Linked DNA regions of Homo sapiens: region 2 is linked to region 1. The links come from fine-mapping of genetic effects on gene expression. A gene starts in region 1. The other region holds a variant in brackets. All regions are shown on one strand. Distances are from middle to middle. Region 1 holds the start of PPP1CC (protein phosphatase 1 catalytic subunit gamma). Region 2 has its middle 21 kb from the start of HVCN1.

Evidence for each region. PIP is the estimated chance that this variant, and not a neighbour inherited with it, causes the effect. A credible set is the group of variants that fine-mapping cannot tell apart.
Region 2: its variant is the best candidate, but not a certain one, in a credible set for the expression of PPP1CC in whole blood (INTERVAL, PIP 0.60).

The regions. Positions count from the first base shown.
Region 1 is chr12:110,741,453-110,744,360 of GRCh38, reverse strand. PPP1CC (protein phosphatase 1 catalytic subunit gamma) reads left to right here and starts at 1,470. Exons shown (of 7, transcript NM_002710.4): 1 at 1,470-1,708. The coding sequence starts at 1,654. RefSeq lists enhancers at 1-475, 1,237-1,745 and silencers at 1,240-1,379, 1,540-1,599.
Region 2 is chr12:110,708,900-110,711,807 of GRCh38, reverse strand. It overlaps a transcript of PPP1CC not described here. Among named protein-coding and RNA genes, the nearest start is that of HVCN1, 21 kb to the right of the region's middle. The variant A/G (reference allele first, on the strand shown) is at 1,294.

The DNA of each region.
Region 1 (2,908 bases):
CTGTGGACTCCAGCAAGAGCCCCCCCTGACCTCCATAGCCAGATGTTCACAGCAGCGCTGGGCACCAACTCCGAATGTCACCAACTGGGCTCATTGCCTTGGCCTGACAAATGGCACTTATGTGACTTCTGGTGGACAGAGCTGTAGCAGGGGAAAGTGAGTTAGTGCCTGAGGAAAGTGGATCGATAGGCTGAGTTCTGAAACTCAAGGGCCCTGCACCAGTAGCGAGGGGGCCCAAGTAAGGGGACATGGAGCCCGCACCCTGAGGACATTGCTTTGGAAGAGGATGCCTGGGTGGTGCAATTACCTCGTGGCATACTGAGATGGGGATTCGTGCATCCTGCACGCCTTGGGAAACAAAATGAATTTCTCGGAGAGAGGGGGCTTTGCAAAATGTAAAGCGCTGCAGGAAGCAACGTACATGGAAAGGTCAGGAAAGAGAGCCGATCTGTTTGCTGAGTGTGGGCTGTACTTCCAAACCCAGCCAAAGTCGACGCGCAGCCCCTGGAGGTGGCACAGTTTGGGGGCCCCTTGGATAGGAGTGCCCTCGGGGAGGCTGGGAAGCCAGAGAGGAATGGGCCAAAGTTTCTTCGGGTGTCTGCAGAACCCAGGACCGCCCGCGCAGCTTGCATCTTCTCTTCCCGCCCCCGGCCTGCACGCGTGAAATCTGCAAATTCCCCTTTTAACTGCTGCACGCGCTCGTTCAACTTTGCCCTGGCTAGAATCGGGATAACCGTCCCGATGATTACATAACTTTCCGAGTTCAGGGAAGATAAATCCAAGGGACAGAAATGATAAAATTTTCTTTGAGTATGGATTTTTTACCCCTAAAGTTACAGAAGTGCACAAAAAATATATATACAAATACCCATATACCCACCACTCACAATGAGTTAACTGTTACATTTTGACTTATCTGAAAGAGGGTTTTTTCTTTTTAGTTACCAAATAAACCTTTCTCTTGTCCCAAGTTCCAGTATATCTGAATCCAAAATAAGTCAACCTTCTTTTCTTTATTATTCTTTTCCATCCTCACCCCAGATTTATCTTAAAGGGTAAGTTCCAGGACCCCCGAAATCCCTCGGTGAGCTCCCACCTGTCCAGGTCTGCAAACATCTAGACTCAATGCACAAGATCCGGCGATGGCCGCAACCGGCGGTGTGCACAGCTGCATTTCCTCCCCCAGCCCCAACTCCCGCGTGCAACTTTGCAACTCTCGCTCGGGCCCGGCATTGGGGGCGGGCCTATTTACTCGGCCCGTTTGGCGGAAGGATCCCATGCGGGGACGCGGTTGCGCTCAGCCATCTGCGCCCCGCCCAGCGCCCGGGCCCCGCCCCCTCCAGCGCCCGGGCCCCGCCCCCTCCCGCGCCCCCTATGGCCCATAAAGAAGTCCCGGCCGGGCCGCTGCACTCCCCGCGCGCATCCGTGCGCCGCCCGAGGCTGTCTAAGGAGTCGGCGGCCATTTTGTTCTTCTCGTGGTTCCAGTGGGGAGAGAAGGAGGAAGTAGGGAGCGGGGTGGCAGGGGGGGGACCCGCCGCGGCTGCTGCCACCGCCGCCACCACCGCCTCTGCTCGTGGCGTGGGAAAGGAGGTGTGAGTCCCGGGCGCGAGCCGGCGGCGGCGCCGCTGCGGGAGGGTCGGCGGTGGGAAGGCGATGGCGGATTTAGATAAACTCAACATCGACAGCATTATCCAACGGCTGCTGGAAGGTAAGGGGGGCGGCGGGCGGCTGAAGGGGGAGGCGGGCCTGAGGGCGGCAGGCGGCCCCGGGGGCTCGAGGGAGGGGAGTTGGGAGGCCGGTTGGGCTTGCAGCACCGTGGGGAGTGAGCTCCTCGAGTTGGCCCACGGGCCGGGGACTGCAGCCGGAGGGAGGCCAGCCCGGGATTCCCAACTTGTCGCCAGCTGCGGACCCTCCAGGCTCCGCTCATTCATTGCACGAGGATGCAGGCTTCCTCCCGGCCGTGGAATTTGAAAACTCCGCTCCCCACCCCCACGTTTCCCGCCCCTACCCGTTTGCCCCCGCGCACTGGACGGGTCTTTGGAGCGATGGTTGGGGATCCCAGTCCAGCCTCCTGGACGACGTGTGCCGTGCTGTGCGAGATGGACTTTTCGGTGCTCGTCCTCTCGGAAGGCAGTTTGATGAGGGCATGAGTTCCGCCGGGTTTGGGGGCTCTTTTCCTGCTTGCTTTTATTTTTATTTTTCGTGGTTCTGGGGTCTTGGGGGGCCCATTTCTTGTTACTTGGTAACAAGCGTTCATGTCTCAAGAGGTGTGAGAACCTGTCTTCGCCTGCCCTCCAAATCCTTTTAAGTTGTTCTAATCTTGGAGAGGTCTCCGCGCTCTTTTCCTGAGCGTGCATCTGAAGAGGAAGCCAACGAGGCTGACGCTATCATTATCTTTCCAATGTGCCAGGCTCTGTCTTAAGCACTTTGCGTCCATGAATTATTACTGTAATCATAACTGACGCTTCTAAAGCGCTTACTGTGTGTCAGGCATTCTTTGAGCACTTAAGACAGATTTCATTTAATTCTCCCACCCATTGCAAGATATTTGCAATTTTTTTTGTTTTTGTTATTTTACAGAAGAAACTGAGATGAAGTCACTTAACCAAGGTCACACAGTTAGTGACAGTTGGATTTCAAATCCACATAGCCGGGAGCTAGAACCCTCTACAGACAACACTGTCACCTTATGTAGGAAGGAAGGTGGCCAGTGGTTAAGTAAAGGTTAATAGAAAGCTTTAAATTTCGGCTCATCTAAGACTTGTGAGGTGCCTGGCAATTGATTCATGTTGATGTGGGAGAGGGGCGAGGTTCAGCTTTTAAAGACGGAAGCTGAAATGAGCTGCTTTCAGATTCAAGGGCATGTCAACGGATGCTAACATCTTATCCAAGACTTTGTAAGAATTCA
Region 2 (2,908 bases), 33 kb after region 1:
GACCACATGCATGCACCACCACGCCCAGCTAACTTTGTATTTTTAGTACAGATGGGGTTTTTTCCATGTTGGTCAGGCTGGTCTCGAACTCCCAACCTCAGGTGATCCTCCTGCCTCGGCCTCCCAAAGTGTTGGGATTACAGGCATGAGCCACTGCCCCTGGCTAGTGTATTTTTTAAATGAAATGTCTTAATACAAAAGAATACATAAAACACCCACATACCCATCGCCTGGGTTAAGAAGTAGAATATTACCAATAACTTAAGAGCCCGTGTGCGTACCTCCCCAGTTACATACTTACCCATCTCCCTCGAGAGTTAACCATGATCTTGAATTTGAAAGTAATCACTTCCTTACTTTTCTTCATTGTGTTTGTATCCCTAAGCAATATACTGTTAAATTTTGCCAATTTATTTATTTTTATAGAAACAGGGTCATGCTATATTGCTTAGGCTGGTCTGGAACTCCTGGCCTCAAGAGATCTTCCTGCCTCGGGCTCCCAAGTAGCTGGGATTATAGGTGCAAACCACAGTACCAGGCAATTTTTGAGCTTCATAGAAAGAGAAATATATGTATTTCTGTAAACAGTTTCCTTCAGCATTTAAAAATTTTTATTTATTTATTTATTTTATTTTGAGACAGAGTCTCACTCTGTCGCCCAGGCTGGAATGCAGTGGCACCATCACTCACTGCAACCTCCGCCTCCTGAGTTCAAGCAATTCTCCTGCCTCAGCCTCCTGAGCAGCTGGGATTACAGGCACATGCCACCATGCCTGGCTAATTTTTGTATTTTTAGTAGAGACGGGGTTTCACCATGTTGTCCAGGCTGGTCTCGAACTCCTGGCTTCAAGTGATCCACCTGCCTCAGCCTCCTTTTAAAGTGCTGGGATTACAGACGTCAGCCATCCTGCCCGGCCTAAACATTTTTATTTATATTTTAGAGAGACAGGGTCTTGCCTTGTTGCCGAGGCTGGTCTTGAATTTCTGAGCTCAAGTGATCCGCCCACCTTAGCCTCCCAAAGTGCTAGGATTACAGGCATGAGCCACCTCACCCAGCAAGCATTTTTTTTTTTTTTTTTTTTTTTTTTTTGAGACAGAGTCTCATTCTGTCACCCAGGCTGGAGTGCAGTGGTGCAATCTCCGCTCACTGCAAGCTCTGCCCCCTGGGTTCATGCCATTCTCCTGCCTCAGCCTCCTGAGTAGCTGGGACTACAGGCACCCACCACCACACCCAGCTAATTTTTTGTATTTTTAGTAGAGATGGGGTTTCACCATGTTAGCCAGGATGGTCTC[A/G]ATCTTCTGACCTTGTGATCCACCCGCCTTGGCCTCCCAAAGTGCTGGGATTACAGGTGTGAGCCACCGCACCCAGCCTAATTTTTGTTTTTCAAAACAAAAATATTTTTGTTTTGAAAATTTTTGAAATGTTTAATAGCGACAGGGTTTCACCATGTTGGCCAGGCTGGGCTCAAACTCCTGACCTCAGGTGATCCGCCCACCTTGGCCTCCCAAAGTGCTGGGATTACAGGCCTGAGCCACTGCACCTGGCCTTAATTTGCATTATTAATATTAGAGGTTATCTTTGCCCTTTTTCCTATTCTCTTTGGGAAATATAATGAGGTGTATTAGACCTCATTCTGTCTTTCATTTCACTTTAACATCTTGTTTTTTTCCATCTCTTTCCCTATGGTTTGCATTCTTGATAATGTCCTCAGCTCTATCTTCTAGTTTACTAATTTTTTCTTCAGTTGTGCTTAATCTAATCCATGCACTGAATTTTTAATTTTAATTACTACATTTTTATCTCAAGTTCTATTGGGTTTTTTGTTTTCCTTTATTATTATTATTATTATTATTATTATTATTATTATTATTATTTTGGAGTTTTTTGTTTTTCACAATCCACTTGGTCATTCTTCATTATCTATTATTTCTTGCTAATCTTTTTAAAACTTTTAAAATTTGACCAGGCGCAGTAGCTCATGCCTGTAATCCCAGCACTTTGGGAGGCTGAGTCGGGTGGATCACTTGAGGTCAGGAGTTCAAGACCAGCCTAGCCAACATAGTGAAACCCCATCTCTACTAAAAATACAAAAATTAGCCAGGCACCTGTAATCCCAGCTACTGGGGAGGCTGAGGCAGGAGAATCACTTGAACGAGGGAGGCAAAGGTTGCAGTGAGCCGAGATCACACCACTGCATTCCAGCCTGGGCAACAGAGTGAGACTCCGTCTCAAAAAAAAAAAATTATTTGACCCCATGGCCTTCTGGTCTGACGTTTTTTGGCCGGGCACCATGGCTCATGCCTGTAATCTCAACACTTTGGGAGCTCGAGGTGGGTGGATTATGAGATCAGGAGTTCAAGACAAACCTGGCCAATATAGTGAAACTCCATCTCTACTAAAAATACAAAAAATTAGTCAGGCATGGTGGCACATGCCTGTAATCCCAGCTACTCGGGAGGCTGAGGCAGAGAACTGCTTGAACCCGGGAGGTGGAGGTTGTAGTCAGCCGGGATCGCGATACTGCACTCCAGCCTGGGCAACAGAGGGAGACTCTGTCTCAAAAAAAAAAAAGTTTTATTTCTCTAAATATAATAAACATGGTTATTTTATGTTCTATCTGATTATTCCAATATCTGAAGTGTTTGTGGGTTTGTATCTATCATTTGTGTGTTTTTGTGGGGGGTTTTGCCATTCTTCTGAATGTTTCTATCATCTGTTGTTTCTATTGTTCCTCATAGTTGTTTCTCTGTGTGTGTTGTGATTTTTTGACAGAGTTGCCCATTTTCTTCACATCTTTATCCATGGGATTCTCTGCGGCCTGAATTGAAGTTGAGCTCCTCCAGAGAAGATCAGAGTTTGCCTCTGCTGGTAGACTGGGGCAGTATCAACCTAGACTTTAAATCCTCA